Homo sapiens: one gene and its partners. The protein of the gene in region 4 interacts with the protein of the main gene of each other region in a biochemical or structural test. Each region holds a gene or a part of one and is shown on either strand. Other genes may lie near its edges.

Region 1 (7,038 bases), on a different chromosome or scaffold from region 4:
TTCCTCTGTCACCCAGGCTGGAGTGCAGTGGCGTGATCTCGTCTCACTGCAACCTCTGCCTCCCAGGTTCAAGCAATTCTCCTGCCTCAGCCTCCCAAGTAGCTGGGATTACAGGTATGTGCCACCATGCCTCATTTATTTTTGTATTTTTAGTAGAGACATGGTTTTGCCATGTGGGCTAGGTTGGTCTCAAACTCCTGGCCTCAAGTGATCTGCCCTCCTCGGCCTCCCAAAGTGCTGGGATTACAGGCATGAACCATCATGCCTGGCCATCCTTTAGTTTTAACAATGAGTGGAAGTACTACGAAGGGGACTTACGAGGCCCATTGACCTTGATGCCTCCTGAAAGAGTTTTAGTTTTGGAATTGCTAAAGATGTAGGAACAGAAGTCTGCTACTTGTTGCACAAATTCAGGGTCCAGCTCTTCATCTTGTAGTTTCTCAAGCTGGGCAAGCTTCCTGCGGTGAATGGGCAGATCGAAGACAAAACATTTTTTCTTTGGGAAGAACTTCCGGATACAGAGTCGGGGCAGATTAAAATTTTTATCTTTTTGACTGGTACCTAGAGAAACATAATAAAGAAATTTGCCTAATATAAGTGTTTCCGTAAAGCGTCAAATAGTAAATATTTTAGGCTCTGCAGGCTAGGTGGTCTCTTTTCCAAGTACTCAACTTTGTTATTGGAGCATGACAACAGCTTTAGACAATATGTAAATGAATGGGCATAGCATTCTTCCCAAAAAACCTCACTTAGAAAGACAGCTGGCAGGCAGAATTGGCCATCATTTGTCTTAGGCTGCAGTTCGCCAGCATTTGGACTAGTACACTGTTCATGTTCAATCTATGTTCTTTAAGTAAATATCCATTGTCCTTCATATTTTACAGGTAAATACAGAATCACGAACCCTACATAAGGAGATAAAATTTACCTAAATTGTAAAATAGGAAAAAATGAAAGAAAAAGAAACTTATTTTAGAACACAGGAGAATATAATTTAAAATCTAATCTATTAATTTAGATATTCAGCAAGCATTCATTCCTTTTTTCCTTTTTTCAAAAAACCTTTTCTATTGCTAATAGCAAGCATTAATTCTTAAGAATAGCAAGCTAGAGATATAGAAAACTGTAAATGTGAGAAAACTATCAATAGTAAACTAAAAAATGATAATTTCTAGTGTTTTGTCGTCCTCATTTATCAATGGTACGTCTCTGTTACCTTGCGTTAGCTTCAGGGAATACTCCAGGTACTCATCTGGTGTGAGGGGTTGTCCATCTGCTTCCAAGTCCAGGGAGAAATCTCTCAGTGTCCACACAAAATCTGGGAAGAAGCTCACAAAGTCAGCTGAATCCTCATTCTCATTCTCATCAGGTGAGGATTTTGATCGGATTCGATGTGTCAGCTCTGTCACATAGCTGAGTAGCTAACTAAGGAAATGTGACAAAATGAACAGGAACCTCATCCCATATTAGTTCAACACATTCCCAAACCTTCCATTTTCCTTTGATCCTAACCTAAGTGTCAATTCTAAAGTGGATACATGGGATCTCTCCTCTGTACTTGCATTATTTTTTGTTTTCTCCTTTTGAGCTTGATTCATCAGGATTCACAGTCAGGCAGCTGGTTTATGAATACAGGTGTCCCCTCTGACCTTGGTGCTGTTCTGGGTCACAAAAGGATACTACAGTTGGTCCATAGCCTGCTGGTTGATGGTTCCCATGCTATTGTACACGAGAGTGCTGCTCAGGAGGACGGCCAGGGTGAAGATCCAGGAGTCATTCTGGTTGTCACCCTGGAAGTCAAGACACACTGGAGTCAGGAGCAAGTTTCATCATCACAGCACTTTCCAGAGTGACAGTAGTAAAAGTATATCATAAGTTAGAGTTTTCTTTTAAGACTAATGACCTATGAAAAGAACCCAAATCCAAACAAAATGATTGTTACTCAGCTGTGGAATGTGTATAGTTTTTTGATTAGTGTTTTTTGGTATACACTGATTCTCACCAGGTCCTCTTATGATCATTGGCAGACAATTGCAAAATAAACATTCAAGGTTAATGGGCATTCTAAGGCCTGAAGTATAATTTAAACTTGCTCAGGCTACTGAATTATAAGTTCTTTGCAGGATAGGACTCGTGACATTGGATTTATTTGTGCTCCCTTTATGCATCTGTGTTAACTCACATAGCTTACAACCTATGGTTAGTAGAATACTGTGTGTTGACCACCATGCTTTGCTAGGATTCTGTCTTATGAATATTTTTCTCACTTCTGGTTGCTAAGTTTGGCCTTATGACATGTACACAGAAATGAAAAGACAAATTATAGTTAAATGCAAACTCTTCTTTAAGAAAAAACTAAATGGTGCTTAAAATATTCAGAGATGAGGGGCTTATTTCAAAATTGAATCTTTGACCCTTACCTTCTTTACATCTCCCAGGCCCTCAGTGTCAAGCAGGACTAAGGTGTGTTCTGGCTTTTTGGGGTGAGGCACACACCACATCCAGATTCCTTTGGTGTGAGATTTCACTGTGGAGCCCAGAGAGAAGCCTGTAAAGGAGAGATGGGATAAGAAGGGCTGGAGGTTTAATAGCAGGTACTTCAGGAAATTGAGGCAAATGTAGCATCATGATTAATGTTAAGAGAGATAACCAAAACCACAATCAGTACTTACGTTACTTATAATCAGAAAAATAGAAAAATTTGAATATCCAGTACATAAATGGATTCAGGACCTTTCATGATAAAAACAATCAACAAATTAGAAATAGAAAAAAACTGAGGAAGGAGAATCACTTGAACCCAGGAGGCGGAGGTTGCAGTGAGCTGAGATAGCACCACTGCACTCCAGCCTGGGCAACAGAGCGAGACTCTTGTCTTAAAAAAAAAAAAAAAAAAAAAAGAGGGATAGAGAAACAGAAAAAAATTACCTCAACAAAACAAAGGACATACATGAAAAATCCACAGCCTGCTTCATACTCAATGGTGAAGACTGAAAATTTTCCTCTAATATGGGAACAAGGAAAAGATGCCCACTTTTGCCACTTCTTTTCCACAAAGTACTAGAGGTCCTATCCAGAGTAATTAGGTGAGAAAAGGAAACAGAAAGCATCTAAATTGGAAAGGAAGATGTAAAATAATCTCTATTTACTGATGATATGATCTCTGCAGAAAACTTTAAATATTACACAGAACTGTTAGAACTAATAAAAAGAATTCAGCAAAGTTGCAGCATACAAAATTAACATGCAGAAATCTGTTGCATTTGTATACAGTAGCAAAGAACAATCCACAAAGGAAATTTTGAAAGCAATCCCATTTAACATACCACCAAAAGGGCAAACTACTTCAGAATAAAATTGGCCAGGCACAGTGGCTCACGCCTGTAATCCCAGCACTTTGGGAGGCTGAGGCAGGTGATCACAAGGTCAGCAGATCGAGACCATCTGGCCAATGTGGTGAAACCCTGTCTCTACTAAAACTACACACACACACACACACAAAATTAGCTGGGTGTGGTGGCGGGCACCTGTAATCCCAGCTACTCGGGTGGCTGAGGCATGAGAATTGCCTGAACCCAGGAGGTGGAGGTTGCAGTGAGCCGAGATTGTGCCACTGCACTCCAGGCTGGTGACACAGCAAGACTGTCACAAAACAAACAAACAAAAAACCCAAAAAACGTAACCATAGAGGGGAATGACTTGTATAATGAAAATTACAAAATTTTTTTTTTTTGGAGACAGAGTCTCACGGTGTCATCCAGGCTAGACTGTGATCACTGATCACTGTAGTCTTGACCTCCCAGGCTCAAGCAATACTCCCACCTCAGCCTCCCGAGTAGCTGAGACTACAGGCACGTGACACCAGGCCTGTCTAATTTTTGTATATTTTGTAGAGATGGGGTTTCCCCGTGTTGTCCAAGTTGGTCTCAAATTCTTGAGCTCAAGTGATCTGCTGGCCTCAGCTTCTCAAAGTGCTGGGATTACAGGTGTGAACCACTGTGCTTGGCCAAACATTCTTAAAAGAAATTAAGGAAGAGTTAAATAATTAGAAAGACATCCTGTAAAAGTGACATACAGATTCAATGCAATCCCTATCAAAATTCCAATGATTTTTTTATAAATAAAAACATCAAAAATATCCACACTAACTTTCATATGAAATTTCAAGAGATCCCCAAATTGTCAAAATAATCTCAAAAAGGAAGAAGAAAGTCAGAGGCTCACAGTTTCTGAGTTCTGAAACTTACTACAAAATCAGGATAATCAACACAGTTTGGTATTGGCTTAAACACTGTTATCAACTAATGGAGTAAAGTAGAGAGCCTAGAAATGAACTCTCACATCTATAGTCAAAAAATTTTCAACATGGATGCTAAAATCATTCAACGCAGAAAGAGGAGTCTCTACAACAAATGACATTGGGAAAACTGGATATTCACATGCTCACATGCCAAAAAAAAAAAAAAAGTTGGACTGTTAGCTTACACAATCCAAAACGTAACTCAAAATGGATCAAAGAACTAACCATTAGAGCTAAAACTATAAAACTCATGGGAGAAAACAAAGGGGAAAAACAGACAGTAAAAGGAAAAACAGATAACTTTGACTTCATCAAAATGAAAAACTTTTGTGCATCAAATGACACTATCAACAGAATAAAAAGGCAACACATGGAATGGAAGAAAACATTTGCTAAACGTGTATCTGATAAGGAATTGATGTCTAGCAAATATAAAGAATTCCTACAATGCAACACAAACAGATTAAAAAGTAAAGAAAGAACTTGAATAGACATTTCTCTAAAGAATGGCCAATAAGCACCTGAAAAGATGCTCAACATTACTAGTCATTAGGAAAATGCAAATTAAAGCCATAGTGAGATACTACTTCACATCCATTAGTATGGTGACTATCAAAAAAAATTGAAAAGGGCTGGGTGCAGTGGCTCAAGCCTGAAATCCCAGCACTTTGGGAGGCTGAGGCAGGTGGATCACCTGAGGTCAGGAGTTTGAGACCGGCCTGGCAAATATGGAGAAACCCCATTTACACTAAAAATACAAAACTGAGCCATGCATGGTGGCAGGTGCCTGTAATCTCACCTACTTGGGAGGCTGAGGTAGGAGAATCGCTTGAACCCGGGAGGTGGAGGTTGCAGTGAGCTGGGGTCGTGCCACTGCACTCCAGCCTGGGTGACAGAGTGAGACTGTGTCTCAAAAAAAAAAAAAATTAAAATAACTGTAGGGAGACCCCGTGAAACTATTGCTATGGAATAAAAGATGAAATGCTCCTGATTATTGTAAATACAAAATTGCATGCAGGATTGTGCAAAGACAGTGCCAGGTTGGACTGCCAGAATGAGCCAACGGGACGTGATGTGCTTCCCCCTGCAGAGAGCCTATGAATGGATGTGCAGTCAGGGAGGTTTCACATCACCAAGATTCCTATCCCAGAAAAGCAGATGTTCATAGCTCTGGGAATGGAATGAGACCCTTGTGGAGAGAGGGGGCACCTGTCCATGTGGATAAGATAGGGCCATAAACGCATTCATCTTGCCATGGCTCTTCTAGGCCTCTTTAGGGTTAAGGCATACTCCCTTCTGAGAATTTCTGGTCTAACCGGTTGTCTAGCTTCACGTCTTGTTTCTATGGATTGTTTGTAACCAGCTTTTGCTGCAACTGTTACTGCTGATTAATATCTTGCTAATCATAGGTTATGAAAGACTGCATTTCTGTTTTAAGGCTCTGTTAGAAATTACTGATGCACACACTATATTGTAAATTCTTATCTCTGTATACTGTACTTCTGCATACAGATGTTATGTTAAAGAATTACTTCATCCCCATGTGACCATCTCACCTCATAATCAAACGACCCTAAATCCCTCACTAACCTTCCCCCACCCTCACTAAACTTAATAATAAATGCTGGCATATCCAGTGCATTGGCAGCACCACGGGACCAGAAGGCTGTGACCCCCCTGGACCCAGCTTTCACTATCTTGTGTGTATCTATTATTTCTCGACCTGCCGGTCTGCCTGGGAACAAAGAGAGAGCCCCGTTGCATTGCAGGCTGCTGGCCAGATCCCGCAATAAATAACAAATGTTGGTGAATATGAAGAGAAATTAGAACCCTTGTGCATTTCTGTTGGGAATGCTAAATGGTGCAGTCACTGTGGAAAATGATACAGCAATTCCTTAAAAAATTTAACATGGAATGACTATATGAGCCATCAGTTCCACTTCTGGGTGTATACTGAAAAGGAGTGAAAGCAGGGACTCGAACAGATATTCAGACACCCATGATCCTATCAGCATTATTTGTAATAGCCAAAAGGTGTAAGCAACCCAAGTGTCAACTGACAAGCGAACAGATAAATTAGTATACACATATAATTACTTAGCCTTGAAAAGGAAGAATTTTTTATTTCTTTATTTATTTTTGAGATGGAGTTTCGCTCTATGCCCAGGCTGGAGTGCAAAGGCACGATCTTGGCTCACCGCAACCTCTGTTTCCCAGATTCAAGTGATTCTCCTGCCCCAGCCTCCTGAGTAGCTGGGATTACAGGCATGTGCCACCATGCCCAGCTAATTTTGTATTTTTAGTAAAGACGGGGTTTCTCCATGTTGGTCAGGCTAGTCTTGAACTCCCGACCTCAGGTGATCTGCCTGCATTGGCCTCCCAAAGTGCTGGGATTACAGCCATGAGTGCCCAGCCAAAAAGGAAAAATTTTGACACATGCTACCACACTGAACCTTGAAGACATTATGTGAATTAGAATAAGCCAGTCACCAAAGGACAAATATTGAATGACTCCACTTATATAACATTCCTAGAGTAGTCAAATTAATAGAGATGGAATGTAGAATTGTGGCAGGAGATGGGTGTAGGTGGGGCTTTTGTTTAATTGGCACAGAGTTTCTTTTGGGGAAGATTAAAAAGTTCTGGAAATAGATGGTAGTGATGGTTGCACAACAATTTGAATTTAATTAATACCACAGAACTACATACTTAATAATGGTTACAAGGATAAATTTTAT
Region 2 (7,038 bases), about 65 Mb from region 4:
GCCCAGAATTGAAACCTGGATGCTACACACATTAGCAAATCAAAAGTATAGCTGACATCAAGGAGATAGCAGGTGGGCAAAGGGGACTCTATCCAGATTATCTGAACTTTCAAACACCTTTCATTGACTGCATAGCAAAGGGTTTTGTTTGTTTTAAACTCTGCTTCAGTTATCAAGATTTTGGAGAAAAACTGTAGGTCTCCCTTTACCATTCAAAGAAAAGTAGATTTGAAATAAAGTTCAGGACTAAATAGGCACATCTCTTGATAAAGAAGTGCTGTCTGTCAACATTATTTCTCCCCCAAAAATTAGTAGGGCCATTCTTATTTGTCAGATTTTGAAAGTAAAATAAGAGAATTCAGTTTCCAGTTATGGTGCCCCACAACAATTCTTCTACTGAACGCAGCCAAAAATTCTGGACAAAATATTTTCACAATTTTCTTAAAAGCAACACAAAAATAGGAAGGAATTATCTGGCCAAAATAAAAGGGAAAATGGGAACCCAGTGAGGTAAAGGAACAAAAAGCCATTTTTGCCCTTAGGATATTGACCAATCACAACAAACAGCCTTGCAGGACTCAAGGAGCAAAAATCAAACACCCTACCCCTCCAGAGTGGACAGTCTAATAGGTGATATACCTCACATTTAGCTAGATCCCTAAAGGGCTTATGTCTTCAAAGCAAAGACAAAACAGAAGTATATTGGCCCTCAAATGTATTCACAACCAAAATTCACATCAGCTGGGTGGCCCAAACATCTTAAGTAATGCATTTACTTTAAAGTGATTCCAGGCCTGGCAGTGGCTCACGTCTGTAATTCCAGCACTTTGGGAGGCGGAGGCGGGCAGATCACTTGAGGCCAGGGGTTCAAGACAAGCCTGGCCAACATGGCAAAACCTCGTCTCTACTAAAAATACAAAAATTAGCCAGGCGTGGTGGTGCACACCTATAGTCCCAGCCACTCCGGAGGCTGAGGCACAAGAATCGCTGGAACCTGGAAGGCAGAGGTTGCAGTAAGCCAAGATCACACCACTGCACTCCAGCCTGGGTGACAGTAAGACCATCTCAAAAAATAAAAATAAAAAATAAAGTGGCCCCAGACTGGTAATAACTCTAGACATCTACCAGAAGGAAATGTAAAAAACAAAAAACAAACAAAAAAAAACCTTTCTGAAGAAGATACCTTTATTTGAGAGCTCAGATTAGTCTCATAGTTCTTCTTTTTGTCTTTTTTTTTTTTTTTTTTTTTTTTTTTTGAGGTGGAGTCTCTGTTGCCCAGGCTGGATTGCAGTGGTGCAATCTCGGCTCACTGCAACCTCTGCCTCCCAGGTTCAGGTGATTCTCCTGCCTCAGCCCCCCGAGTAGCTGGGATTACAGGCGCCCATCACGACGCCCAGCTAATTTTTTTTTTTTTTTTTTTTTTGAGACAGTCTCACTCTGTTGCCCAGGCTGGAGTACAGTGGCGCGATCTTGGCTCACTGCAAGCTCCGCCTCCTGGGTTCAAGTGATTCTCCTGCCTCAGCCTCCTGAGAAACTGGGATTACAAGCATGTGCCAACACACCTGGCTAATTTTTATATTTTTAGTAGAGACGGGGTTTCACCATGTTGGCCAAGCTGGTCTTGAACTCCGGACCTCAGGTGATCTGCCCGCCTCAGCCTCCCAAAGTGCTGGTATTACAAGCATGAGCCACCGTGCCTGTCTAGTCTCACAGTTTTTCAAGGACAGCAGGCGGCACACAAAGGTAAACTAAGGATACAAGGGAACACGTCGTCATGAACAAGAACCAGCAGAGACAACAGACCACACAAAGGCACCTCTAAGACCTCAGATAAAGGAAACGCAAAGACACTAACTAAAAAATAACTACTTACTATGTTTAAAGAATTAAAGATGACACTGAAAATACCTGCAGAGAACAGAACAATATTTTTTTAAGAAATGACCGAGCAGATTTGAAAAGAAACCAAAATGAACTTCAACAATAACCAAAACTAAAAATTCAGTGGATGGTTTTAACAAATCAGACTCAACTGAAGAGAAAATTAATGGAGTGGAAGATATGTCATTCACAGACTGGAAAATAAGTCAGAATAAATTATCGAGAATAAAGCATGGAGAGATAAAAAGATGGAAAATACAGAGCAGATAATGGAGAAGCCCTAAGATCATGTAATCAAAAACCCAAAAGGAGAAGAAAGGAAAATGCAATCGAGGACAAACCTAACAAGATAGCAACTGAGAAATCTGCAGAACTAATGAGAAGCCAATCCACAAATTCAAGGAGTCTAATGAAGTCCCAAACAAAATAAAAAGAAATATAGGCTGGGTGTGGTAGCTCACGCCTCTAATCCCAACACTTGGGAGGCTGAGGCGGGCGGATCACGAGGTCAGATAGAGACCATCCTAGCTGACACAGTGAAACCCCATCTCTACCAAAAATACAAAAAATTAGCAGGGCATGGTGGCGGGCGTCTGTAGTCCCAGCTACTCGGGAGGCTGAGGCAGGAGAATTGCTTGAACCCAGGAGGCGGAGGTTGCAGTGAGCCGAGATTGTGCCACTGCACTCCAGCCTGGGCGACACAGCTAGACTCCATCTCAAAAAAAGAAAAAGAAATCTATACTGTGACACATCATAATGAAACTACATAACACCAAAGACAGAGAAAATCTTAAATGCAACCAATAAAATAAGCTAGAAAGCAGTAAAACACAGTAAAATCTTTATGCCTGTTATCTAAAAAAAATAAATAAATAAGCATCAGTGTGGCTCTGCTTACCTCAGAAGGTTGTACAGTTTAAATGGTACAGTGTATCTGAAAGGGCTTTAAAGAAAACTGTAAAGAGTGCTGGCTGTAGCAGTACATATACTCAAATTGGAATGATACAGATGATTAGCCTGGCCCCTAGACAAAAAATATGAAAAAATAAAACTGTAAAGATATCTGGAGATGTAAGTGACAGCTTGTACAAAACCTATTTCATTCTTGGTCATTCAGCCTCCCTCTGAACCTCACTTTACCTAACTGAGCTGATTATTTCCAAAGTTCATTCCAGCTCAAAGATTACTCTGTCATTACATCTCAGTCAGAAGGAGGTGATTCAAATTATAATATTCTACTGCCTAAAAATAAAATGCTATCATCAGAAAGAACAATGGAAAAAGAAATTATATCCCAAATTCTATAAAAAGCCATCCATATAGGGAATACTAATAAAAGTGTTGAAATCACCAAACTTTTATAGATAATGTAAAAACAGAAAAAAACAACTAAAGCAGTGGTTCTCAATCCTTGCTGTATACTGGGGAGCTCAAAAAATACTAATGCTAGGGGTCCTCATTCCTAAGATTCTGATTTAATTGATCTGGGGTAGAGTCCAGGGAATTAGTATTCATTCCCTCTGATTATTCTAAGATTATAGCTAAGGTTGAGAAACACTGAACTGAAGAGACAAATAATAGGATACGTTTTAAAAGATTAAAGCCTCTATAACCTTTCTAAAATATAAAGATTATGAAATTATCAAGAATATGAGTAGAATGAAAAATGAACCTGCTGACAAAATTATACCATATGACAATGGAGTTCACCTGCTCCACATGTAAAGGAAGTGGCTTAAAGAGCCAAATAAAATGTAGGATTCATTTCATAATGTGGTTAGTAAATTTACACAATTTGTTACCCATGATGTAATGCAAAGTTAAGATAAACACATTCAGAAAAGTTTATATGAATTTCAAGGTAACAGATACCTACTGGGTTATTAAAAGGAAAGCAAATACACTTGAAGTATATCCTCAATGTTCTGAGGCTGACACTGAAGGCAACCATTCACTCCCATTAAATATCTCTTAGTGCCTGGGTCAGACCCAGAATATTACACTGCATGGCCTCAGGATGGCACTTGTATGCTCCAGCCTCAGAAAAGTTCATGACTGAAGATTATGCTTTTCTCTGGGGATGAGGAGATAACCGAGAGCAAAAGTTTAGCATCATGCATCTGCAACCATTTATTAAGCACTTACTTTATCTTATGTACCATGCCTCTGCTAAGTACTTTAAATTATCTTAATTTAATTCTCACAAGGTAATTTATTATCCTTAACTTACACATGAGAAAACTAAGGCTCTGAGAGATCAGAATTACGGCAAATATGTATTTTAGGCGTAAAATACAATAGTAAGTTTTAAAGCAAGAATTTTAAACCCAGGTCTCTGCCATATTGCCTTTTGTGATAATTATAAATAATAGTCACAATAATAAAGACAAACTCATTTTAAGTATTTATGTTTTCCATTAAAAAGCTCAGTAAATCTTCTCAGCTGTCCTATGAGGCTGCTCATTCTCTCTATATCCATGTATTTTTGTTTGTTTGTTTGTTTGATTGATTTGTTCTGAGACAGGGCCTCACTCTGGCACCCAGGCTAGAGTGCAGGGGCATGATCATAACGCAGTGCAGCCTTGATCTCCAGGGCTCAAGCAATCCTCCCATCTCAGCCTCACGAGTAGCTGGGACCACAGACGCATGCCAACGCACCCAGCTAACTTTGTGAATTTTTTGTAGAGATGGGGCTTCACCATGTTGCCCAGGCTGCACTTTTTTTTTTTTTTTTTTTTTTTTTTTCTGAGACAGGGTCTCCTTCTGTCGCCCAGGCTGGAGTGCAGTGGAGTGATCATGACTCACTGCAGCTTCAACCTCCCAGGCCCAAGCAATCCTCCCACCTCAGCCTCCCAAGTAGCTGGGACTAACCCGGCTAATTAAAAAAATTTTTTTTTCTGGAGATGGGGTTTTGCCATGTTGCCCAGGCTAGTCTTGAACTCCTAGACTCAAGTGATCCTCCTGCCTCAGCCTCAATCCCAAAAGTACTGGGATTACAGGATTACAGGTTTTGAGCCACTGCACCTGGCCCTCTAAAAACTGTTAAGTCATCTTTGACTCCCCTTTTTCTCAAACCCCACATTCTATCCTTTAGCACATCTTGTTGGCTCTACCTTTAAAAATGTATTCAGAATCCTGTATTTTGAATACGTATCAAATACATATTCACATATCTTATCACTACCACCTTAGTTCATCTTCTGCCTGGATTTATTAAAGTAGCCTCCTAACTAGTCCCCCTGCTGCTTCTACTTGTTTTCCCTCCAAGTCTGTTCTGAATCCTTACAAGGGGTCCCTTTTAAAGATGGTGTCACTCTTTTGCTTAAAACATTCCGACGGCTGCTCAGCTTGCTGAGGTATAAGGCCAAAGTCCTTACAATGGGCAAGACCCTGTCTGACATGACTTCTTCCATTAGTACCTGTTTGACATGACTTCTTCCATTCTCTTCCTCTACTCTAGCCACTTTTCCCTCCTTGATATTCCTTAAATATTCCAAGCGTGCTCCCTTCCCCCAGCTGTTCCTTCTGTGTAGAAAGCTCTTTCCTCACCTTAGAGATCACCTTTTCAGGTCTTAGCTCGAATGGCATCTTATCAGTGAATCCTTTCTTCCCCATTCCACCCTCTCAAATCCTCTTATTTTCTTTCCCAACATTCTATGTATTTATTTATCACTGTCTGCCTGCCTCAACAATTTAAGCTTCATAAGGGCAAGATCTGTATTTTTGCTGTTGTATCTCCGGTATCTAGAACAAGGTCTGGCATGAAGTAGATGCTTGAAAAATATTTGGGGAGTGAAAATACAAATTATTAATGCCAAAACCCAGAAAATACAAGTTATTAATGCCAAAACTCTAGCATACAGCCTCCACACCACATGCCCTAAGCTACTCAATCTTGCCACCTTTTTCATACAACTCTAACACTTACAGGTAAATATCAGGGCCTCTCCTACACCACACACCACACACATATCAAAATCTAGGGCCAACATTTTTTATTTTTTATTTACATGCCTGCTTTCTCATAAGTCAGTAATTTTCAAATACTGAGCCTTAGGTTCTCATGAACTCATAAAGTTCTTTACTCCTGCTATTCTCCCCATTCACTGCTGGCTCTTCTCTCCTTCACTATTCTTTTTTTTTTTCTTAAGATGGAGTCTCATTCTGTCGCCAGGCTGGAGTGCAGTGGCACGATCTCAGCTCACTGCAACCTCCGCCTCCCAGGTTCAAGCGATTCTCCTGCCTCAGCCTCCAGCACACACCACCATGCTCAGCTAATTTTTGTATTTTTAGCAGAGACAAGGTTTCACCATGTTGGCCAGGACGGTCTCGATATCTTGACCTCACGATCCGCCTGCCTTGGCCTCCCAAAGTGCTGGGGATTACAGGTGTGAGCCACCGCGCCCGGCCTCTCCTTCACTATTCTAAAGAAATTAGCCTTCTCCCCAAATGATAAACACTCTGATTCTTCTACAAGTTATATCGTACTAATAACTAGACTGCATGTTTCTTTGAGGTCATCTAGCACAATGCCTCACATACAGAAATTTTTCTCAAATATTATTAGTATTCCTTCTCCAATTCCTTTCACAAATGTAAAGCTCACTAATAATCTTAATCATTCTTTTTTTCCCCCCATGAACTACTGCCTAATCTCAACTGGATGTGAGGAGGGGAGCATTACCAAAAATAAAAAGAGAATTTATCAAATAAGATGAGCAAGAGTGAAATAAGTGACAAATAAATAGGTTTTTGCTATAACGTGGCCCTTTCCTTACTCCCAAGATCTGAAGGAGGGAGGAAGCAGTAAAGGCAGGCCAGGCAGATGAGAGCTTGGATTGCCTTTCACAAGTCTTCCCTGGCAACCTGAAAGAGCAGGACTGACAGGTTCTTGAAGAGGCAAATTTGACTTCATCTTAAAGGTATTTGTGTTGACTCTGGTGTTAATGGCTTAGGAAGAGATTTAAAAATTAAAAGGAGGACACCAACTGAGCCGTATTTCATCACAACGCATTCAACTATTTTACTTCCTATTGTGTTTCTAAGAAAATTCCAGTAGCAAAAGAAAAATAAAGAAGATTCAAATGTAACGATGGTAATAATTTTTTTTCCAATTACACTAATAAGGGGGGACAAAGACCAGAGATTACTGCAAAC
Region 3 (7,038 bases), about 96 Mb from region 4:
AAAGAAGGTCTCACTATGTTGACCAGGCTGGTCTCGAACTCCTGGCCTCAAGCGATCCTCCCATCTCAGCCTCCCAAAGTGCTGGGTTTACAGGCATAAGCCATCACGCCCAGCCCCTTATGATTTTCTGAATAACATTTTCTCTAGCTTCCTTCATTGCAATACACTATATAATACACAGAACATACAAAATGTGTGTTAATCGACTGTTATCGGTAAGGCTTCCAGTCAACAGTAGGCTATTAGTAATTAAGTTTTGGGGGAGTCAAAAGTTAGATACTCAGATTTTCAGCTGCACAGAGGGTTGGGATCCCAATCCCGGAGTTGTTCAAGGGTCAACTGTATAATGCAAGCCATATATTTAATTTTAAATTTTCTAGGCCCAATGTGGTGGCTCACGCCTGTAATTCCAGCACTTTGGGAGGCCAAAGTGGGAAGATCACTTGAGTCCAGGAGTTCAAGACCAGCCTAGGCAACACAGGGAAATGCCCCTATCTCTACAAAAAATTTGAAAAATTAGCCAGACATGGTGGCACTATGATTGTAGTCCCAGCTACCAAGAAGGCTGAGGCAGGAGGATTGCTTGAGCACAGGAGGTCAAGGGAGGTAAGCCAAGATCAGGCCACTGCATTCCAGCCTGGATAACAGGGTAAGATTTCGTCTCAAAAAATTAATTAATTAACTTTCTAAGAGATACATTAAAAAGGGGATAACGTGAGGCCGGGCGCAGTGGCTCACGCCTATAATTCCAGCATTTTGGGAGGCCGAGGCAGGTGGATCACAAGGTCAGGAGATCAAGACCATCCTGGCTAACACGATGAAACCCCATCTCTACTAAAAATACAAAAAATTAGCTGTGCGCAGTGGCAGGCACCTGTAGTCCCAGCTACTCAGGAGGCTGAGGCAGGAGAATGGCAAGAACCCGGGAGGCGGAGCTTGCAGTGAGCCAAGATCGCGCCACTGCACTCCAGCCTGGGCAAGAGTGTGAGACTCCGTCTCAAAAATAAAAATTAAAAAATAAAAAATAAAAAGGTAACGTGAAAGAGGTGAAATTAATTTTAATATTGTAGTTTGACCCACTATATCCAAAATAATACCATTTCAGCAGGTAATTGATATAAAATTAATGGGCTACTTTTTGACTTTTAAGATATAATTGATACAACTAAAATTTACTCTTAAAAATTCAGTAGTTTCTAGTATATTCACAAAATTCTGCAACCATTACCACTAAATTTCAGAACATTTCAGCATCCCAAAAAGAAACCTTGAACCAATTAGCAGTCACTTCCCATTCTCTCCTTCCCCCAGCCCTAAGCAACAACCAACCTAATTTCTGTTTCACAGGATTTGCCTATTCTGGATATTTCATTAAAATGAAATAATATAATAAGTGGCATTTTGTGTCTGGCTTCTATTATGTTTTCAAGGCTTATCCATGGTGTAGTATGAATCAGTACTTCATTCCTTTTTTTAAAATTCAAAACTTTTTAGCCTTTAATGTTTTTAATATATACAAAATGCCGTACTGTATGTTTCTCCCTTTAAGACTTCATTCCTTTTCATGGCTGAATATTATTCCATTGTACACATACAGTCAGCACTTTGCATCTGCAGATTCAACCAACTGCAGATCAAAACTACACTTTAAAACCCCATAACAATAAAAAATAATACAAATTAAGAAATACAGTATAACAACTATTTATATAGCATTTATATTGTATTCAGTATTATATGTAATCTAGAGATGATTTAAAGTATATAGGAGGATGTGCATAGGTCATATGCAAATACTATGCCATTTTATATAAGAGACTTTGGTATCTGTGGTTTTGGTATTCATGGGGGTCCTGGGACCAATCCTCTGAGGCTACTGAGAGATGGCTGCAACACATTTTGCTTATCCATTCATCAGTTGATGGATATTTGGTTGTTTCCATTTTTTGGCTATCATAAATAATGTGACTGTGAATATTCATGTACAAGTCTTTGTGCAGATAAATGTTTTCATTTTGGGGGAACTACATATCAAGGAGTGGAATTCCTGGGTCGTATGCAACTCTATGCTTACCATTTTAAGGAACTTCCAAACTGTTTTTTGAAATAGCTGAAGCATTTTACAATCCCATCATCAATGTTTAGGGGTTCCACTTCACATCCCCGTCAGCACTTGTTATTGTCTATCTTTCCTATTTTAGCCATTATAGTGGGTATGAAAGTATATGCCATTTGGGGTTTTGATGCTTTTTTCTTAACATTTTAAAAAATTGTAGTAAAATATATACACCACAAATTTTTCCATTTTGACCCTTTTTTTTTTTTTGAGACGGAGTCTCACTCTGTTGCCCAGGCTGGAGTGCAGTGATGTGATCTCCACTCAGTGCAAGCTCCGTCTGCAGGGTTCACGTCATTCTCCTGCCTCAGCCTCCCAAGTAGCTGAGACTACAGGCACACGCCACAGCGCCCGGGTAATTTTTTGTATTTTTAGCAGAGATGGGGTTTCACCGTGTTAGCCAGGATGGTCTTGATCTCCTGACCTCGTGATCCGCCCGCCTTGGCCTCCCCAAGTGCTGGAATTACAGGCGTGAGCCACCGCGCCCAGACAGCTATTTTGACCATTTTTAAATGTACAATTTAGTGGCATTAATTTACAATATTGTGCAACCATCTTCACTGTTTCCAACTCTCAAACAGAAACTATTATGGCCAGGCATGGTGGCTCATGCCTATAATCCCAGCACACTGGGAGGCCAAGGCAGGTGGATCACTTGAGGCCAGGAGTTTGAGACCAAACTGGTCAACATGGTGAAACTCCGTCTCTACTAAAAATACAAAAATTAGCCTGGCATGGTGGTGCACGCCTGTTGTCCCAGCTACTCAGAAGGCTGAGGCAGTGAACTGCTTGAAACTGGGAGGTGGGGGCTACAGTGAGGCAAGATTGTGCCACTGCACTCCAGCCTGGGCAACAGAGTGAAACTCCAGCCTGGGCGACAGAGCGAAACTCTTGTCTCTTAAAAAAAAAAAAGAAAGAAACTCGGCTGGGCGCAGTGGCTCACATCTATAATCCCAGCACTTTAGGAGGCTGAGGTGGGCGGATCACATGAGGTCAGGAGTTCGAGGCCAGCCTGGCCAATAGGGTGAAACCATGTCACTACTAAAAATACAAAAATTAGTCAGGCGAGGTGGCACATGCCTGTAAATCCCAGCCACTTGGGAAGCTGAGACAGGAGAATCGCCTGAACCTGGGAAGCGGAGGTTGCAGTGAGCCGAGATTGCGCCACTGAACTCCAGCCTGGGCAAAAGAGCAAGACTCTGTCTCAAAAAGAAAAGAAAAGAAAAAAGTCTATTACCCTTAAGCACTAACTTCCCATACCGCCCATCCTTTGGCAGCTTCTACCTACCTTCAAATGTCTATATGAATTTATTCACTCTAGATAAGTGGAATGCTACAGTATCTGTCCTTTTGCATCTGACTTGTTTCACTCCACATAATACATACTGGATTTTAAAGGTTCATCTGTGTTGTAGCATGTATCAGAACTTCATTCCCTTTCATGGTTTTATAATATTTCATTGTATGTCCATGCTACATTTTGTTTCTCCATTCTCACGGTGGTTTTTTTTTTTCCCTTATCAAGCATGGTTGTGGAGGAGACAATGTTAATCAGCATAACAATAACGCACAACCCTCGCACCAACTGTCTGTGGTTTTGAGATGTGCCTTAATAACTAATGTTGAGCATCTTTTCATGTGCTTACTGGCCATTTCTGAATCTTTTTTTGAGACATGGTCTCTCTCTGTCACATAGGCTGGAGTGTAGTGGTGTGATCTTTGCTTACTTCAACCTTGAGTCCTTGGGCTCAGGTGATTCTCCCACCTCAGCCTCCCTAGTAGCTGGGACTACATGTGCACACCCATCACACTCAGCTAATTTTTTGTATTTTTAGTAGAGATGGGGTTTCACCATGTTGGCTAGGCTGGTCTCGAACTCCTGACCTCAGGTGACCCACCTGCCTCGGCCTCCCAAAGTGCTGGGATTACAGGCGTTACTGTCTTCGAAATCCAGTATTTATTTTGTGTTTACAGCATATTTCAATTTTGACTACCCACATTTCAAGTGCTACACAGCTACATGGGGCTCATGGGTTACCACATCACTGTATCTTTAGACCTTTAACTGGTTTCTGAATTTTTAATTTGGATGACATTTTGCATTGTTTTTAGCTGCCTTCCCTTCACCTTCCCCCAGTTAATTCTCAGGTAACTATTCCTACTCTGTAACAGTTATAACAGCAAAAAATGGCAAAATATAGCAGGTTACAAAATACTATGTAATGGTGTTTACAAATTTTTATGTATTATATTTTTCCAAATATATAATCATAATGCTACTGCAAGTGATCACAATCAGCATGTGACTGTGAGGGCTTGTAGACAGTAAGTTATAATGTTTGTCGCCTAGAAGCACTATTTGTATAATTTACTCTATATGCTGAATGCCTCTCTTTAATTCTCAAGGATACTGAATAAATGATTATTGGTGCTAAGTATTCTGCTGCTCCCACTTCAGAATCTCCCTAGTGATTTTAATCCATGAGAGCAATTTTCTTAGCTTAGTTTGTCAGTTCCTATAGTTTCCTGACTAAGCAGTTATTCAAAAACAGTTCAGAAAGTGTCCTTTCAAATTGTTCTTTTGTTTGTATTTTTACAGTAACTCCACTCAATATAACTACCACTTGGAAATCCTACTATCACCCTCCCTTGACACATGGCCAGTTCAACAGATCTGGACTTCAGCAAGCAATGCTGCAATTCTAAGACTCAATTTACAGGTCTTAATGCTAATGACTATCCTGTCATTTAATATTAATCAAGAAAGAAGTGGATATGAGAATGACAGTATATTTAAGAGTCATAACACATCACAAACTGGATATCACTTCCACTCTAAAGAAAGAATAATACATCATTACTATTTGCCAAAACAAAACTAGCCTTGATTCAGCCTTCTTGATTCAGTTTCCTAATTGCAATAATCACATCATTCACTACGTTAAGTAGCCAACTTCAGTGAATTATCAATGAAACCACTATGTGGATTTTCCCAGATGTAGACAGATACAATCTTTTTATTTTTTTTATTTTTTATTTTTTTTGAGACGGAGTCTCGCTCTGTCGCCCAGGCTGGAGTGCAGTGGCGGGATCTCGGCTCACTGCAAGCTCCGCCTCCTGGGTTCACGCCATTCTCCTGCCTCAGCCTCCCAAGTAGCTGGGACTACAGGCGCCCGCCACTACGCCCGGCTAATTTTTTGTATTTTTAATAGAGACGGGGTTTCACCGTTTTAGCCGGGATGGTCTCGATCTCCTGACCTCGTGATCCGCCCGCCTCGGCCTCCCAAAGTGCTGGGATTACAGGCGTGAGCCACCGCGCCCGGCCGACAGATACAATCTTAATACTGCTTCAATTAATTAACATAAAAATGTGACATCCTGAATGAAACCAGTCTTCCAAATAAGTACTATTCTCTTAGGTATCAAATACTCCTTATTTTGGAGCATTTGTCCTTTTTGAAACAAAAAACATCAGATATTGATTTTGCAACTAGGGCCTCACTTGTCTTCAAGCCTTAGAAGTCTATCAATATAATGACCACTTCAAGGTCTATGATTCTACAGAATTGGCCTAACCCAATATCCCCAGTGAGTCAGTGTCAAGTAAAAAGTAATTATAACAGATTAAATGGGAATACAGATTAAGGGAAAAGCAATGCATAAACAACCCAGATGTAAAGACCATTTTGGAGACAACTAAGGAAAAGTATACTGGGTATCAGATGATATGAAGAAATTTTTTAAATAAGAAAAAGTACAGTAGGCCAGGCACAGTGGTTCACACCTGTAATCCCAGCACTTTGGGAGACTGAGGTGGGCAGATTACTTGAGGTCAGGAGTTTGAGACCAGGCTTGCCAATATAGCAAAACCCCATCTCTACTAAAAATATAAAAATTAGCCCGGCATGATAGCGCATGCCTGTAATCTCAGCCACTTGGGAGGTTGATGCATGAGAATCTCCTGAATCCGGAGACAGAGGTTGCAGCGAACCGAGATCATACCACTGCACTCCAGCCTGGACAACGGAGTAAGAATCCATCTCAAAAAAAAAAAAGAGCAAAACAAAAAACTGCTACTGCCTATAGTCTTACCTTGACAAAAACTAAATAAGGAGAAAAACAACATGAATATTTAAAAGCTCAAAAGTAACATTTCTACTTAAACTAGGCATCAGAGTAATCAATAGTTCTTCCTATCAAAAGAAATAATCTGAACAAAAACCTAAACAGGCGTATCTCAATCATTACACAGTAGATATCAGCACAATGTGACAGATGTTAATCCGTAATAGCCAGTGGATCATGAAGTGAGTTCTAGCCCATGTAATTGCCCAATTATGAAAAATGATGCTTATCATAAGAAATCCTAAAATAGCACTGCAGTAACAACTTCACAACAAGCAACTCAAAATGAAATAGCAAAATGAACAGTGAACTAAAAACCCTAAAAACTTGTCTAACATTGTCTTGAGAGAGATTTAGGCTATAATAATTTTATTAGTTACTCTATTTCATAAATCCTCACCTCTTTTGGAGTTTTATGAGCTGCACAAAGAAAAATCCATTGTTCAGTTGCTGTCATTTGAGTGCAAGTATCTGGATGGCATTCACTCTGTTAAAAATAATTATATTTCTTAATATGTAAAATAATAATGAAAAAGCTTATCATTTAGGTTACTATATTTCCATAATAAATTCTAGAAGAAAGTTAGAAATGTGGATACGTTTTTGTAAGCACATTAAGTTATAAAAACAGAGAAAAAAAAATCAGAACTTTCAATTATAACTTTGACTTAAAGAAAATATTACCTGAAGTTTGACAGCAAGTCCATTTAGCTCAAGGCAGAACTGCCTGAAAATGCAAATACATAAATAAAAAGTCATATCTATTCTTCACAGCAATTTTTAGAATATTAGCTGCA
Region 4 (7,000 bases):
GTTATCACACTTAGAAAAATGTCATATATTCACTATTAACGTTTTCTTGATTGTCTCATACATCAGTAAAATGTGTTTTTTTTTTTTTTTACTATAACAAGTTCTTTAATGTTTACAAGCGGGTACTGGGAACTTCAATCTTAGAAGTGGTGAAAATAGCAGAACATCTCTTTTTTTCCTCTTTTTAACTATTTAATTTCTAGAACCATTTACAATTATGTGTAGGAGTTAATTTAGGATTTTTGTTGGTATGATTTGCTTGTGGTAGATTTGGGATTACATTATTAACACTTTAGAGTTTGTTTATTGCTGCTAAACATCCTTTAGGATGAATAGCATTAAAGTTTGAGAAATACTTGTTGCTGAATTGTTATTTATAAAAAGGTCTTTATTTTTAAACATAATTTCAGGTAAAAAAAATCTGTAAGCTGAACAACTTGTCCTAATTTATTTTAGTGTCATATTTTCTATTTTTCATTAGCGCAGATGTTGCTTATTTTGAGGCAACTATATTTACATGAAGTGAGTGAGTTGAAAAGAGGGAGTTTTCTGAGATTTGATATGTCGTATGAAATAGCTTCTTTTGGGGCGAACGACTCTCCTGCAAAACTGTGCTAATGGTAGACCCCTCATTTATGGAAGAAAGGGAGGGGGAGGGGTGTGTGTGGCAGTAGGGCTAAGAGTGACCTTTGGGAATGGTAGAAAGGTTAGGGAGTAGTGGGAATTTCAAGGAGATGTTATTTGGACTTGAGGAGAGACATCTTCTTTAAGCATTGAGGAGCCACTGAAAGGTTTTGTTGGAATTGGGGATCCCTGAGAGTAGGGGACTTGATCCAGTTTTTTGGGGATAACTTCTAATTTTCTGTGTCTCTGACAACAGTGGTAAATGGTCTGGTATAGTTGAACAGTATGTAACTTCATCTTAAAAGAAGGAGGTGAAAAACGGGGTGTATTCTGTTTAGAGAAATTTATTTTCACCCTTAGGTTTTTGAGAGACGGATACTCATAAACTTAAAATTGTAAATTTCTCTTCACAAGGTTACATTCAGAGTACCATATATTTATAAGAGAAGTGTCTGGTATGATCAGTGAGGAGAATGATAGTGTGAAAAATTAAAACCAGAAATAAATCAAGTTTGTTTCCATGTTATTTTGGATTTTATTGTTATTTTGTTTTGAGACGGAGGTTTGCTCTGTTGCCCAGGCTGGAGTGCAGTGGCACCATCTCTACTCACTGTAACCTCCGTCTCCCGGGTTCAAGTGATTCTCCTGCCTCAGCCTCCTGAGTAGTTGGGATTACAAGTGCGTGCCATCACGTCCAGCTAATTTTTGTATATAGAGATGGGTTTTCACCATGTTGGCTAGGCTGGTCTTGAACTCCTGGCCTCAAGTGATCTGCACGCCTTGGCCTCCCAAAATGCTGGGATTGTATACAGGCATGAGCCACTGCACCCGGCCTTATTGTTATTTTAAATATTTATTTGACCATTTTTGTGTTCTTGGGGTAACTACTGTTATTTTGCATTTTGTGAGCATGTGATGGCTGGTGTTCCAAATGTCTTGAATAAAAGATTGTCAACCGGACGCGGTGGCTTACGCTTGTAAATCCCAGCACTTTGAGAGGCGCAGGTGGGCGGATCACTTGAGGTCAGGAGTTCGAGACCAGCCTGGCCAACATGGTGAAACCCCGTTTCTACTAAAAATACCGAAAAATTAGCCGGGTGTAGTGGGGGGTGCCTGTAATCCCGGCTACTCAGGAGGCTGAGACAGGAGAGTCACTTGAACCTGGGAAGTGAAAGTTGCAGTGAGCCGAGATTGTGCCATTGCACTCCAGCCTGGGCAACAAGAGTGAAACTCTGTCTCAAAAAAAAGAAAAGAAAAGAAGATTGCCAGCCTGAGGACAATTCTGAGTCTTGGAAGGACTGACAGAGGGGAAATCCGGTAACAGTAACGTGGAAGTCAGGGAGTTTAGAATCCAGCAGGTAAAATGTCTGAAATCAAGGTTCACTCAAAGGAGGGACCATAGATTTTGTGGAAGACTGACCCATTCTGATCTTGTCATTGGAGGAAGGGTACAATGTGGACCTTGGAGATTGAGGACAAGGGTACCCTAGGCCCAAAGACCTTGATGGTAAGGGGAGCTAACGCTAAGAGTTTGCTCATTCGATGCCCATTTGACACTGTGCTCATGTTAGACCCCTCATTTATTGAAGAAAGGGAGGGGAGAGGTGAGGTGTTTGTGTGTGGCAGTAGGGCTAAGAGTGACCTTTGGGAATGGTAGAAAGGTTAGGGAGTAGTGGGAATTTCAAGGAGGTATTATTTGGACTTGAGGAGAGACATCTTCTTTAAGCATTGAGGAGTCACTGAAAGATTTTGTTGGAATTGGGGATCCCTTAGAGTAGGGGACTTGATCCAGATGTGTGTTGGGAAGGAGCTGGTAAAATGGTTGGCCTTGGGCAGTGGTCCAGTGACAGGAGGTGAAGGCCGAGGCGGGATAGTGGCAGTGGTGGTAGAGAGGAGGAGAGGTTGGGGTGGATACTTGGGCATTACTCTTTGCTAGGTTTAACATGTTGAATTCACTCGTTCTCTGCAGGCTTTGGTATGTCCCTTTAAGTGGGTACACGGTTTGCCCACAGTATTAGGAGGAGCTTTGGGATTCCCAGCACTTTGGGAGGCTGAGACGGGCGGATCACCTGAGGTCAGGAGTTGGAGACCAGCCTAGCCAACATGGCAAAACCCCATCTCTACTAAAAATATAAAAAGTAGCCAGGCGTGGTGGTGTACGCCTGTAATCCCAGCCACTTGGGAGGCTGAGGTGGGAGAATCGCTTGAACCTAGGAGGTGGAGGTTGCAGAGAACTGAGATCATGGCACTGCACTCCAGCCTGGGCAACAGAATGAGACTCTGTCTCAAAAAAAAAAAAAAAAAAAAAGGCGGGGGTGGGGTGGTTAAAGTGCTAAAATTGCTTTCGATTGCTCAGTGGTAAAGTGCCATATAGATTGTCTGGCTTTTAAAAATCATTAGGGGCCGGGCACGGTGGCTCACACCTGTAATCCCAGCATTTTGGGAGGCCGAGGCGGGTGGATAACAAAGTCAGGAGTTCAAGACCAGCCTGTCAACATGGTGAAACCCCATCTCTACTAAAAATAGAAAAATTAGCCGGGCGTGGTGGCGCGTGCCTCTAGTCCCAGCTACCCAGGAGGCTGAGGCAGAAGAATTGCTTGAACTTCCCCAGGAGGTGGAGGTTGAAGTGAGCCGAGATAGCACCACTGCACTCTAGCCTGGGTGACAGAGCCAGACTCCTCCAAAAAGAAAAAATAAAATAAAAAAATTTGCATTTTGGAGCAAGTACTTAAACTTTTGTGAGGGATTCTCTAAGTGTTATCTTTTAAGTGTAGCATCTCTCGTTCTTAATTGGAGGTAAAGACATCCACTGGGGCAAAATGAATTTTGTAGAACCAGATGTTTTCATTAGGAGGAGATTGTGTCAGCTGATCTGCCACTGAGAGGCATGTTCAGGCTTGTTCTGAGACATAGATTTCCTTCATGTGGAAGATTCTGGACTTGGACAAGGTGGGAGGAAGCCAGCCCTGTTGAGCAAGCCCTGCTCTCAAAGAGTTTCAACCCTTACTTTCAAAAACTGTTTTACTAACTCAAACATCAAAAGCTCTACAGAAAAGCCAACCACCAAACAAAACCCTGCTGATGATGGGTTTTTAACTCCTTACTGCTTGAAACTTTGTGATAAATGTACATTTATTTGCCTAGCTGCAAACTCAACTCGTATTTTGCCTTTTTTCTTAACCAATATTTTATGTGTGTGTGTGTGTGTGTGTATATATATATATATATATATATATATTTTTTTTTTTTTTTTTTTTTTTGAGATGGTGTCTCGCTCTGTCGCCCAGGCTGGAGTGCAGTGGTGTGATCTCGGCCCACTGCAAGCTCTGCCTCCCAGGTTCAAGCGACTCTCCTGAGTAGCTGGGACTACAGGTGCATGCCACCAAGCCTGGCTAATTTTTGTATTTTTAGTAGAGATGGGGTTTCACCATATTGGCCAGGCTGGTCTCGAACTCGAGTCAGGGTAAAGTTTTTAGACATACAGGGAAAGATGACTAGGAAGAAAATGGAGAAGGCCAAGGTAATCTTATATTTATTACCAGTGACCATTGTGGCAGCAATGGTTGTTAGGTTTTATAATGTTATATCACTGCTCACCAAACAGAATTTGTTCTTTTGTTATGGAGCAGGTTCAGTAATAAGAGTTGGTGAGTATTATTCAGAAGAGAAGCTGCCTCTTGGGTTGAGTAATTAATAAAGTGATTCATTGGGAGGTAGTTTTTGTCTGTAAGAATCTCTAAGGAATGATCACAATGATAAGTTTTAGGACATCCCGTTTTAAAAACTGGACTCTTACAAACTTTGTTATCTAGATAGCATTAGGTATAACTAAATTGGGGAGACAAAAGTGAAAAACGATTAACCATATAAGGGTGGTTTCATGCAGGTACTGTGGATGTGTGCTGGGCCCTGTTCTGAGAGTTAGATACACAGTGGTAAATGAAGCCGATGATATATCTACCCTTATGGAACTCAAGAAAAACAGGGGGATGGACACAAAATGCCAGCTGTGGGATGTCAGTCATACATTCTGTGTTGTCTGCATCTCCCTGGGTTCCCTGCCCAGCACACTTGTGTTCAGACACAATGAATGCACTGACACATGGAAACAGCACATACTGCAATGTGTTCATTTTAAGTGGCTCAACCTCATCAGCAGGGCTTCTCTGTGCTTTAAATTACAGTAAAAACAAATGAAAAGTGAAATGAAAAGGTAGACATATAGAATATCAGTCTACTTTTTTTACTCGTAGAATCAAAAGACATTTTCCCATGTCAAATTGCTGTAAAAGTTTTTGTTTTTGTTTTCTTTTTAAAAAAGTATAAGAAACTCAGGTGATATAAAAGTTTTTATATACTTTTAATTTCAGAAATGATCTTGCTGTGGTCAGCAGACCACACTTTGAGGAACACTGAACTGGCAGGATTGAATTTGTAGCAGGGCTCTTAGTAAACTGTGGGTGGTTGGTGTGTTAGTGAGCTGGAGAATTGAGGACTGTTGTTTGTGCCTAGTATTTGGTTCTCCCACCCTTTGAACATTGGGGAGCTACAGCAGGTGCTGCTTACAGCTTTATGCTTTAGTGCCAAAACGTCTTTGACCCCTGTGCTTTGGAACTGTCTCAGATATGGCTAAATATGAACAAGTTATCCTATTAAATTTAAATAAATGAAAGAAAAACCCCACTTTTACATTATAACTTTAAAAAATCCTTCATATGATAAATAGGGCCTTAACTTACCAGTTATGAATCGATAGTTATAATCAAATGATACTAAAGCGCTCATACCAAAAGTCAGAGTCATCCTGTTCTCCAGAAGCATGTTTTCAGTGCTTTTAGCTGCTACATCTGAAATTTATTGCTATATTTGTAAATTATGTACTTATGTGGCTAGTTCATTTATCAGTTTTATACATTTATTGACGTCCTCTAGCAGTAGTTGTAGTTATTGAACTAGTTAGTTCAATAGTAGTTGAATATTTAACTCCTATACTTGCTGCCTCCCTTAAGTGGGCATACCATAATTTTGGGTTAAAGTGATAGTTGTTTCTTTTATCATGACTATGTAAATACCATTTATATGTGAGCTAAACAGTCTCATACGATTACATTTCCTTTTTTAAACAACACCCCTGCCCCCACATCGCTTTTAGTTTTTCATTTGCTTAGTTTTCTTTGTACCTATCATCACCTTCCTCCTCAGATACCCTAAAAGGTATAACAAATGCCTAACAAAGTTTAGTCTTTATCACATTTTCCAAATGCTTAATTTAACACCACACGTCAGATAATTTATTGTTGCAAGATAACCTGTTGATTTCAATTTTTTCTCCCTGGAGTTTCCTCATAGCTATGCAGGTATGGTTGCCCCTGGACCTGGCATGTAGCTATTATTGTCCTGGAATGTCTGTTTCCTGGATACTGCAGTCTTCCTTTTTGGTTTACTATCTTACTTTCCTGAAGCACATCCTCTAGTAGTTTTAAAAGAAAGGGTATATGGGTATTAAGGTTTTAAGTCCTTGTATGGCTGAAAATCCCTTTTTCTTATCACTGCCTCATCTTCTCTTGTCTGGAACATAACTGCTTTCGATTTCTTTAGGGACTAAATCTCTGGTTTCCTGTGGGTATGGAGTGATGTGAGGCAGTTACCAGACTGTGTAAGGCAGAGAAAGGGGACCTGGGGCTTTCAACCACTAAATATGCAAACTTTCATCAGTTCTGATTTTGGCCTTGCACCTCACTTGGTATTGGTTTATTCCAAATGATGACCTTGTCAGGGTTTTGTAGGTCCAACTGTCTCACTTCTTTTTGGTATCCTTTAGTAGGCACTTAGGTTGTAATTTTTACCTCTTAGTTACTACTCCATCCACTTTTTATTTTATCTTTTTTTTTTTTTTTTTTGAGACAGTCTCACTGTTGCTTAGGCTGGAGTGCAGTGGCGCCATCTTGGCTTACTGTAGCCTCCGCCTTGTGGGTACAAGCAATTCTCTTGCCTCAGCCTCCCAAGTAGCTGGGACTGCAGGTGCGGACCACCATGCTCGGCTAATATTTGTACGTTTAGTAGAAATGGGGTTTGACTATGTTGGCCAGGCTGTTATCGAACTCCTGACCTCAGGTGATCCCCCTGCCTGGGCCTCTCAAAGTGCTGGGATTACAGGCATGAACCACTGCCCCTGGTCTGCCTGTCTGTCTGTGTCTTTTGAGACAGAGTTTTGCTCTGTCCCCCAGGCTGCAGTACAGTGGTGTGATCACAGCTCACTGCAGCCTCAACCTCCTGGGCTCAAGCAAACTTCCCACATCAGCCTCTTGAATAGCTGGGACTACAGGTGTGCACCACCATGTCCAGCTAAGTTTTTTTTTTTTGTTTTTTTTTTTTT

What was found.
Region 1: the proteins of MAP4K4 (region 4) and GBP3 form a complex in vitro, tested with the Homo sapiens proteins (one study listed by BioGRID and IntAct).
Region 2: the proteins of MAP4K4 (region 4) and STRN form a complex in vitro, tested with the Homo sapiens proteins (one study listed by BioGRID).
Region 3: the proteins of MAP4K4 (region 4) and MOB4 form a complex in vitro, tested with the Homo sapiens proteins (one study listed by BioGRID).

The regions. Positions count from the first base shown.
Region 1 is NC_000001.11:89,012,867-89,019,904, forward strand, and holds part of GBP3 (guanylate-binding protein 3), read right to left. Parts: intron 2,549-7,038; coding exon 2,421-2,548; intron 1,791-2,420; coding exon 1,681-1,790; exon of another isoform or gene 1,565-1,680; coding exon of another isoform or gene 1,539-1,564; intron 1,414-1,538; coding exon 1,217-1,413; intron 562-1,216; coding exon 319-561; intron 1-318.
Region 2 is NC_000002.12:36,956,517-36,963,554, forward strand, and holds part of STRN (striatin), read right to left. Parts: intron 1-7,038. UniProt on the Homo sapiens protein: Calmodulin-binding scaffolding protein which is the center of the striatin-interacting phosphatase and kinase (STRIPAK) complexes.
Region 3 is NC_000002.12:197,540,041-197,547,078, reverse strand, and holds part of MOB4 (MOB-like protein phocein), read right to left. Parts: intron 6,969-7,038; coding exon 6,926-6,968; intron 6,729-6,925; coding exon 6,642-6,728; intron 1-6,641. Other genes in the region: HSPE1-MOB4 protein, read right to left, coding at 6,642-6,728, 6,926-6,968.
Region 4 is NC_000002.12:101,700,707-101,707,706, forward strand, and holds part of MAP4K4 (mitogen-activated protein kinase kinase kinase kinase 4), read left to right. Parts: intron 1-7,000.